Linked DNA regions of Homo sapiens: region 2 is linked to region 1. The links come from fine-mapping of genetic effects on gene expression. A gene starts in region 1. The other region holds a variant in brackets. All regions are shown on one strand. Distances are from middle to middle. Region 1 holds the start of PRRC1 (proline rich coiled-coil 1). Region 2 overlaps PRRC1 (proline rich coiled-coil 1).

Region 1 (5,386 bases):
CCTAAGGATTCTAGGTTCCATCTCCAGCTCTATGCACCATTTTCATAGCCTTAGTTTCCACGTTTCTAATACTGGAATAATAATACCTGCCACACATAGTTCTTTTGAAGTTCAAATGAAAAGTGGTAAGTAAAACATAAAATATAGTAAATGTAAATCAAGGTTAACTTCAAAGCTCATCTTACCTCATTGTCCATGTAGTGGGTTGAATAGTGCCCACCCCCCAAAAAAGATATGCCCACCTGGAACTTGTTACTGTGAACTTATTTGGAAACAGGATCTTCATAAGACCTACAAATATATTGAGATGATATCATTCTGGATTTAGGGTGGGGCCTTAGCGGAATGAGTATGCACTTATAAGGAAGTATGCTTATAAGAGAAAGGCAGAAGGAGATTTGAGACACAGAGACATGGGGGGGAAGGCCATGTGGAGACAGAGGCAGAGATTGGAGGTGTGCTGGCACAGAGGCAGAGATTGGAGGTATGCTGGCACAGGCCAAAGAACACCTGGAGCCACCAGAAGCTAGAAGGGGCAAGGAAGGATTCTCCACTCGAGCCTTTGGAGAGGCCCTGCTGACACCTTGATTTTGGACATCTAGCCCCCAGAACTGTGAAGGAATCAATTTCTGTTGTTTTTAGCCAACGAAAACATTAGTTGCAGTAATTTGTTATGATAATCTTAGGAAACTAATGCAGCTTACTCCCAACCCATCAGTAAATCATGACAGCTCCATCTTCAAAATACATCCAGACCGTGTGCCACCTCCACCTCCATTAGGGACACTAAGCCATCATCATCTCATTACTGGTCATCCTGCACTCATCCTCACATGGACTGCAGTCACACAGCAATCAGAGTGTGATCAGAAATTGATATCAAATATTGTCAGTTCTCTGCTCAAAACCCTCCACGTGCTTCTCATTTCTCTCAGAGTGTAATCAAAGGCTTTCCCATGACCTACAAGGCTAGACACGATCTGGCCCCACTCCCTGTCCTGTCTTCTTTACCATTCTCACAGTCCTGCTTCCCTGTTGTCTGCGCACATGCCGAGCACACTCCATCCTTAAGTCTTTGCATGCCCTTCTTTCTGTCCGGATAAGCACAGGCCTGCTGCATTACACGTCTCTGCTCACATCTCACCTATTCAGAGAAGCCTTGCCCATTCATCCTATCTGAAGTGGTCTACTCCAATTACTGTCAATATTACATCACTCTTTGTTGACTCCTCAAACTGCACATCACAAACAGTACTTACTTTATTTTCCTGTTCCTACCCTCTCTCCTATTATAAAGAACGCTCCCTAGGTATCAAGACCTTGTCTGTCTTGTTCGTTACTGCATTTCCAGTACCAATGCTCAGCACATTGCAGCCACTAATAAATATTTGCTGAAAGGATGGAGAAACCAACATACCTTATAGCTATTAAGGGTGTTGATCAGAGAGGATGAAGATGGTTATCTGTCTTTAGCACCACCCCAAACAGCACGATCCGGACAGTAACCTGGATCTCCACCTACACACATTCTTAGAGGATAGGAGCCACCGCCAAAGAAAACCGCCCATGGTAGTTGCACAGTGAGATCTGAAGTCAGAGTATTGCTACATAGTATTAACTTTTCAGTGAGGTATTTTGGAATGCTTACAACTGTGAAGCTCAAGAGATAGATTAATGTGAAATCTCTAAGTGAGTTCCTGAAAAAAAATTGAGAACAACAAAAACAATTTTTTATATATTTAATGCTAAGCAATTTAAAAAATGTTTTCGGACAGGTGCGGTGGCTCACGCCTGTAATCCCAGCACTTTAGGAGGCCGAGGCGGGCCGAGGTCAGGAGTTCGAGACCAGCCTGGCCAAAATGGTGAAACCCTGTCTCTACTAAAAGTACAAAAATTAGCTGGGTGTGGTGGCCTGTGCCTGTAATCCCAGCTACTCGGGAGGCTGAGGCAGGAGAATCGTTTGAACCCGGGAGGCAGAGGTTGCAGTGAGCCGAGATGGCGCCATTGCACTCCAGCCTGGGCAACAGGGCAAGACACCATCTCAAAAAGACAAAAAGTTTAAAAAATTTTCATATGCTCTATTTTATTTGAGTCTGTCACCTGCCTGATTTAGGGATGGTGGATAGTATTATTCTCAGTTTGCAGGTAGAAATATGAAGACTTATGGAGACTAAGTGACCTGTACAAGGGCAGGCAACTGTACAACTGGCATTAGAGTAGTCTCAGACTCAAATCAAGACTTCTGATTTGAAGTTCCTTATTTTCCTCTATCGCACTCCATTAATTTATTTAATGTACATTATTGAACACCAACTATTTCAGGTACTGTGTTAGGTGCAGCATATAATAAGAAAGTTGATAATCTGTCTATTTTACAATTAAAAAAAGAATGTGCAATACATGCACTTGGGGAAAAATTCAGTACAGTAACTGCTACTCTTCTCCCCTCTCCCTCTTCTCCTAATCCCTCTCTCCTGATATAATCACTGTTATCTGGAAATCTTTGACTATACAGGCTAAGTCCCCTGTATCTGCCGCGAGGTCCTTCCTGGAGGTGCTGACTGGACTAGCTGATGTTGGCTAGATGACCGCCAACCAGATGACCTTGGCTAACTGATCTTATCCCTTGGGCCGCTGTGGCACAGGATGAGTGAGCTACGCCTGGTAACAAGAGTGCCACTCTCGTGTAAGGGGGCTGCGAAGTAGAAAGGAGGCCAGCCCTTTGGAAGATGTTTCTAGAGGGTGTGGGCAGAACCAAGTCTCGGTAGTTAGGAAGATCTTGGCTCCAAAGTTTAACTTGCAGCGTCCCGGCCGGGTTCACAGCGCATGGGACAGGGGGGGCGGGGCGATGCGGAGGCGGAGCGGGGCGATGCGATGCGGGGCGGAGCGGGGCGGGGCGGCGACGCGCGGCGCGGTGCGGCGCGCGGCCGACGTGGCAGCCGCAGGAGCATGCGCCGCCCGTGGCCATCTTGTAGGCGGGGACACGCCGAGGTAACTTCCAGGGTGCGCCTTCGTTGTCTTCTCCAAGCTGTAGTTCTACGTCCCGACCTCCCTATCATACCACACTCTTCAGCGACCACGCAGGCACTTTCCCGGTCCCCAGGTGAGCGCCAGGTGGCTCCGAGGGGCGTGTATGAGGGGGGTGGCATGGCATGGCATGGCTTGCAGGCGCCAGAGCCAGACCCCGAGGGACGGTGTCCCTGGAAGGTGGGCGGGCCGGCCGGCGCCACTGGACGCCGATGTCGTTTGCGAGCCCCCTAGTCCCGTGGTCCAGGCTCAGCTGTGGCGGCGTGCGGGGTGCAGCAGGCAGGAGTGCACATCGCAAGGTGAGCAGTTTCCGCTGGGGATGGCACGGTGGGCGCGGTTCGAGGGTCTCGCCCCGCGACACTTTGCTCCTGTCCAAGGACCAAGGCAGGAGCGCTCTGGCCCCACCTTCCAGGGCGCTGACTTTAGGGGAGACTGGCGGGAGCGCCGGCGGACCTTAGCCCGGCCCTGTCTGGCCTGGAGACGTGGCAGAGCCTGAGGGGAAGCCGCTGTCTCCTGAAACAGGATTTCGGCCGCTCTGGCCCTGGAGAGGCCCAGGAGGCTCGAGAGTCATCACACCAGGACCTGCAATGAAAGGAAGCTTATTTTCCCTGAGGTTACCCCATCGGTGCTTAGCGCCGCTTGGGAGAGTTTTTGCATTCTCTCGTTTCTTTGTTTGGTCTTGGGACCTGCTTCAGGCAAATTTGCAGATAGCACGTTTCCTAGATTGACAGAATTTATAGCCAATAGTGTTTTTGTCATTCGAAGTAGTTATTTTGAGAGACAACATGTGCATTTCTGCGATCGTGACACATCTTGGCATTCAGTCTTTCTCCTGTGCAGCCAGTGTTTAATTCAGTGAAAATTTATAAAATTTTATTTCGGGGTCAGATTAGGCTCTAACTAGCGCTCACTGTTTGGTAGTAGAGACAATCTTGTGGCACGAGTAGGTCAGCAATAATTGCTCTTAATGCTTTAAAGTTTATCAGAGCTTCACTCTTCCATTTCTTGTAAACTTGTAAATAGACATCCACTTTTTTTTTTTTTTTTTAACAGAAAAACCAAGGCACAAGCAAATTGGAACAACAGGGTCTAGCCGGACTGAGAACTCAGTTTTCCAAACCATTTTCTTCACTTTTTCTTTAGTGTTGATATATGAATAGTACTTTTCGTGACAAGACTTGAGCCCTAAAACAGTTACCAACTCTGACACTTCAGTATTGTTTTATCATAATAGGTTTTTTTAGTAGAAGGCACTATGTTTATGCATGTAAAATTTACCTCAGTATTGCCATTACGGCAGTTTTCATATAAAAAGCCATTAAAGACAAAGAAATTGATTATTTATTCCACTTAATGACTTTGTATTCATTGTACAGTTTCTTTTGCAGACACATTTGTTAATGTTAGGGATTCTCTTACAATAGGACTTCTACTAGTCATTGTAAGGATTGGGGAGCATCTGTAGTAGAGGGTGAATGACCAATAAAAAATTAAATGAAGAAAAGAGGGAGCTTTGGTTGAGGAGTGGTAAAATCTCCAAAGGGGCATTTCTATCTCAGGTTATTTACCTTCGATGTATAGGTACTGAATGAAAGGATTCAGCCTCCCCGGATCCCTGTTCTCTGCTTAGTGCCATAGATCTTTCCTACGTTCACAGCCAAACTTTTTGAAAGTGTCATGCGTGTTAGTCTCACCTGCCACTGCTCGATTCAGTTTACACTGGAATCTTTCTCCACTCTTTATATGAAAACCGTTCTCCCTAAATTCATCTCCAGTTTGGCAGATCCATTGAACTTCTCAGATAGTATCCTATTTGGCTTCTCTGCAGCATTAATACTGTTGCCCATTCATACTGCGAAACTCTGGCTTTTGGACACCACAGTCTCCTGGTTTTCTTCCTTTCTTTTAGCTCATCTCTTATTCTCTGCAAACTTGTCTTCCATCTTACTAAACCAATAATTGGTTTAACATCATATTCTCTTTTCTCTTGGTATTCTCTTACGTAATCTCATCTCAAAACATGACGTTAGACTATCAGTACACTGATGACACCCACATTTATGTGGTTGCTAAGCTCCAGACCAAGTCAGTGTCTCTACTTAGATGTTTGTTTCAAGGAACTTAAACAGCATGTCAAAGACTAAACATTTTATGATTTCCCCCATCCGACTCCCCCAGAAAGAACATCAAACACATTGGCCTTCTGCAGTGTTTCCTATCTTTGTGCATGGCACCACCATCTATCTAGTTGTGCAAGTCATGCCTCCTTTCCCTTCCTCCATACCCAGTCACTGAATTTTGCCACCTAATCTTGTCTTGAACTTATTTACTTTTCTCCATCTCCACTATCATCACTTGA
Region 2 (5,386 bases), 32 kb after region 1:
CCTTTTGGTTTGAATATATGGTGCTGTCTCTCTGAATGCATAGTAATCTTTGAAAACCATTGTTTAGAAAACAAAACTCTAGAGTCTTTAAGTGATCTTGAGAAGGTTCATCCTTTCCTCTATAATAATATACACAATTGTAGGGGTGTGAGGAAGGGGAGGGTAATGTAGTGTACTTCAGTCACAGTCTGAGCTGAGTCAAGTCTAGGTCGGTGTTCTAAGGTATATTCACTGGCATCATAGAAAAAACTTTCCTCATACCTTCAGTAACACTTTTTAGGATGTCCACACCTGAAAGCTTGGTTAGTATGTTATTCACCATAGAGATTATTGTCTGCAAATTATGCAAAATAAGGCAAAATAAAATTTAGCTAAGCTCGACTTTATGGAGGCTTCACAAATACATTATCTTGATTGAGAAAGTTGTAGTAAAATACAAAATATCTATTAGTCTACCAAATAAAATAAATGTCATTATTTAATGTTTTTAATTTTAAAGTTTTAGGATATGAACACTATAGACATTATAAAGTGCCATTTTAGTATTCAGCAAAGTTATTTATGTTACTGTATATTTTACTTTGTTGTTTTTTTGAATGTGTAAATAAAAGTCTCCTAATCCATTTTATATTTCATTGCATTTTATTAGATTTACATTAAAAAATAGGCATTAAACATTTTCCTGCTTCATATCCTTTTATTGTTTAAATTCATTTTTGAGGGTATCTGGCTGTTTCATGATTTGGGTTAGCTAAAATTTGGGTGGTACTACAGTTGTTTTCAATAAAGTCATTTTTAAAATTTATCATTTTGTATGATATATAAGTCTCTTTAAATGAAGAGAAGTTTCCTGGATTTCATGAGGCTGTTTTCAAAGACTGACTCATTGTGAATAATTCAGAAATTGTGATTAGAAGGATTTATTATTAATGAAGAGAGTATTTGTTATTATTTCCTCTGAGCTTATTTTTTAATTTGTTAGTAACTTAGTTGAGTACATATTCATGATAGAGTTTGTATTATAAAATTTCCCATATTTTAGCAAGTGACAATTGAAAAATATTACTCATAAGCTGTTTGCATATTCAATGTATGTAAATTTACCTGTTGCATATTTGAGTACCCTTACTTTGATTATTCTCCCTTCCCATGGAGAGGAAGCTTTCCATGATAAGTATTTTTAAATTTTTTTTCTTTGTGGTTATTGTCTTTTTTCCTCTTAGAATTAATACAGAGTAATTTTATCTGTTGTTTTTATGAATTGTCCTTTTGCAAGTTGGTAAGAAAAAGATTTCCTTTTTGAAATCTGTTCTATCTGAATAATAGTACTTGTTTTTTCTTTTTGTCTATTCATGATAAGTTTTATTTGGCATATAAACCATTTGAAACTCGTAATTCTGTTGCAGATGGTTTGACATTGGTTGTTTGGTGGTTGAAGATCCTGTCCATGGCATTCATCTAGAAACATTTACACAAGCCACACCAGTGCCTTTGGAATTTGTACAGCAGGTTGGTTTTCTCCTTTGCTTTTTCATTATGCTCCAGAGAAACTTACACTATTGTTTTCAGAATAAAAATTTGTTCGGTTTTTTTGTTAGAAATATGTTCTTGATTTTGTTTCAGTCATTTTTCTTTTAGTATTTTTCTTTGCTTTTTAATTTCCTGATCCTTCCATGTTGTTTTAGTACCTTCCTCCTTTTGTTTTCCAGGTGTCTTTGAAAGGTAATACATTACATGGTTAATCATTATTTCTCTCATTTTTTTCTTTGTTTTTACTCTGAGTTCTGGAAAAGATTTACCTTTTCTAGTTGTTTTATGTCCGCCTTTCGTTTGCTTTCCCTTTTATCTCACATTTCATTTCCACTGTTATCTCCATTTCCCTTTTCCTTGATTGATTGTCCTCCTGTTCATCTTTAGTGAAATCAACATTAGAAACCTTATAGGCACGTGTCTTTAGGTTTTTGGCTGAAAAATGGACCTAATAGTGTACCTATCCACACAGTTTCCAGGAGAATGTAAGTATAAATGATAATCCTTATTCCTCTTTTTTTTTTTTTTTGGTGTGTTTTCTCTAATCCTTTCATGAACAAAATGGAATATAAATATATACTTGCATTGGAATCTCTGTGCTCTTAAGTGGTATTCTATTGACTTTTTTCTGTCAATTTCATAAAATTTTTGTTACAGTTGTAGTTTGTACATTGTTAAATATCATTTCAAAACTGCCTTTCAAACTTATTTGGGACATGAAGACATTTGAGAATCTAAGAAAACTATTGGGCTGTCTCCCAAGAAAAATGCGTGTATGTGTACTTTCATAGAACTTTGGCATATGTGTTCACATAATCCCTAAAAGTAACCTCTGGCCTACTTATTACAGTTTAGAAAGGGGGCTAAGAATTGATGCTTGGAATTTGAAATTTTACTGAAACTTTTATTTATACCGTAATTTCTTTTCATAAGTTCAAGAAAACCTTTTTATAGATATTAACATTACACTCATTTCAATATGAAGGTGATTAAAAGACTGTAAGTGAATACTATGCATACTGTTATGCCAATAAATTAGAAAAATTAGGTGAAAGAGTGGATTTTCTAGGAAAATAGAAGTTTTGCCATAGTTAAGAGTATTAGGTTGAACCAAATGACGTTGTTGCCTTTGATGGTCAGAAATAGTTATATATTGTCAGTTTCATATGATTCAGCTTAATTGAAGCATTAAAATGGAAGAACTTTATGTAACTAAAAAAAAAAAAATCACTGAGTACCAATGGTGTTACAAGTGAGTTCTACAAAATGTTCAGAGATGATTTGCTGTATGAGGTATCAAAAATAGAGGTAGAGAGTTTTCCAGTTCATTCTGTGAGACTAGCCTCTTTTAACTTTAAATGAAATTATAGTCCAAAGAACTAAATGTCAAAACCATTGGTAAAATTAATAAATAAAATTCAGAAATGTATTAGATGAACATTGTATCCTGACCATGAAAAATTTGTCCCAAGAACAGCAGAATGGTTCAACAATAGTAAATTTATGTAATTCAGTACAT[GAAC/G]ATCTGCATTGAAAGGAGAAAAAAGATTTTGATAAGAGTTGAAGGTATTTGCTAGAAATAATCATACTAATAGCTCTTAGTATTAGACGGGTATGTGTGTACTACAAAATCAAAGCAAACTTCAGATCTAATAAATAAAACACTGAAAACGTTATAATTATGAGGATGCTCCTGTCACTGCCACTGTTAACATTGCTGTAGATCTGGGGTCAGCAAACAGTGGCTCACAGCCAAATCTGGCCTGTCATCTTTTTGTAATTAAGTTTATTGGAACACACCCATGCCAGTTTGCTTACTTATTGTTTATAGCTGCTTTTGTACTATAGCAGCAGAAATGAATAGTTGCAACAGAGAATGTCTGGCCCACAAAGCCTAAAATATTTACCATCTGGCTCTTTTCAGAAAAAGTTTGCTGACCCCTGTGTTAGATATCTGACCATTGCAAAGGACAATTTTTATGTTGTTTTTAGGAATATATACTGGAAAGAAGTAGACATGAAAGAATGAAGTGGACTCGTGTGTACCAGTACCAAAAGATAGCTATTACATATTGCTGAGTAAAAGTCAAAAACAGCACATCTAGTATGATCCCATTTACTAGCAGGCGTGTGTATGTGTGTGCTTTAAAATTTTAATAAGAATAGGGAAAAAGGCCTGGAAAGATAACACAGCAAACTGTTAATAGTGGTTAATTCTGAATAATGGTATTTAAAGGGTGTTATTTGCTTTTTACTTTGCTTTTTATTCTGTTTGTTTTATTTTGTGTCATTTGGTTTTAAAATTTAGAAGATACAAAACTGTGTGCATTGAAATGTCTTCTTTTTATCCTCAGCTATTCAGCTCTCCTCCCTGTTTCTTTTTATTCATTCTAAAATGTTTTATGCTTTTTTATTGTTGGAATTTTTTAATTTAAGGTAATGGAAATCAGCCCTTCAGGTAATTAGAATTATCAGTATATATTAGTAAAAATCTGGAAATAAATTTCATACAATTTGTACTTGTTAAACTTAAATATAAATGATTCCTCACCCCCATAAAAAACCCCAGCTGTTCTGGATTTTTGCCAATAATATAGAATACCTTGTTTCTAAAAAGTGTGGTCCTTGGCTTAACATCATAAGCAGCACCTAGAAATTTGTTAAAATGCAGATTCTCGGGTCCTAACACAGGACTAGTGAATCAGGAGCTGCATTTTAACAAGATATTCAGGGGATTCATAGGCATGCCATAATTTGAGAAGCACAGTGTTACTGGTGTCTCTGAGGACGTTAGTAGTATATCTGCTGTTTCTCTTTGAAATATAGTGAAATACTGATACTGTAGTATACACATTGGAAGAGAGTACTTAGAGCAGGGGTTCCCAAGTGCTGGACTGTTTGCATCAGATTGACTTGGAAGCTATTTTACGTACGTAATACTGTACTGTTTCTCTTGGAACCAGCTGTAGAGTTTCCAATTCAGTTATCTTGGTGTCTCAGTTATCTTAGTGGGATGTGAGAAACTGGATATCGTTAAAAAAGAAAAAAGAAACAAGAGCTCCTCAGGTGATTGTAATACATGGCACATTTGGTAGTCATGTATAACTGTATAGATCCGTTCTAGATGTGGCTATACTTCTCTGGACTATACCTAACACCCTAAAACAGAAAAACCACATCAGTCTTGGATATCAAGCAATGAGTTTATTCTTCTGTCATTCCTTTGTAGATGAATAAATGATTTGAATAGGAGCAAATATGAGTTGGGTCAATTAGGAATGTTGCATCAGTGGTTGATGTTGTCCAGGACTGGATATTACTTGATACATATTAACATGTGAATCACATTTCCAGAGAGAATTTCCATAATTGAGCAATTCTTTTCTGAATGGATTTAAGCCTTAATTTTCAGTTTTCCTCTTTCTGGTTGAAATTTTACTACTATAAAAGATAACTTTAGCACTGATTTTAGTACCAATCTTATTATTAACCTGAAGTGACACTTAATTTAGAACTAGAACTCAAACCTTCCGACTGTTAGCCTCGTTAATGGGGATATTTTTTAAAAAATAGATGTGTGTAATGTTACATTGATTGTGTTCTAGCCTTGTAAGTTGATATAGTTGGCAGCCTAGCTGTATTTCTCAGAGTTTGTCATAATCTATATTTAAAATAACATGAAACACTTTGAAATGTCACTTATAGCTAGTTCCAATGATATTTTTAAATGTATTATAAGTAATATCAATTTCATCTTTCCACAGGCTCAAAGTCTAACTCCCCAGGACTATAATCTGAGGTGGTCAGGCCTTTTGGTGACAGTGGGTGAAGTCCTGGAAAAGAGTTTACTGAATGT

What was found. PIP is the estimated chance that this variant, and not a neighbour inherited with it, causes the effect. A credible set is the group of variants that fine-mapping cannot tell apart.
Region 2: its variant is the best candidate, but not a certain one, in a credible set for the expression of PRRC1 in breast (GTEx, PIP 0.79).

The regions. Positions count from the first base shown.
Region 1 is chr5:127,514,674-127,520,059 of GRCh38, forward strand. PRRC1 (proline rich coiled-coil 1) reads left to right here and starts at 2,967. Exons shown (of 9, transcript NM_130809.5): 1 at 2,967-3,103. RefSeq lists a silencer at 2,835-2,904 and an enhancer at 2,965-3,144.
Region 2 is chr5:127,546,413-127,551,798 of GRCh38, forward strand. It overlaps PRRC1 (proline rich coiled-coil 1), which reads left to right. Exons shown (of 9, transcript NM_130809.5): 8 at 1,407-1,509; 9 at 5,295-5,386. Among named protein-coding and RNA genes, the nearest start is that of PRRC1, 31 kb to the left of the region's middle. The variant GAAC/G (reference allele first, on the strand shown) is at 3,050.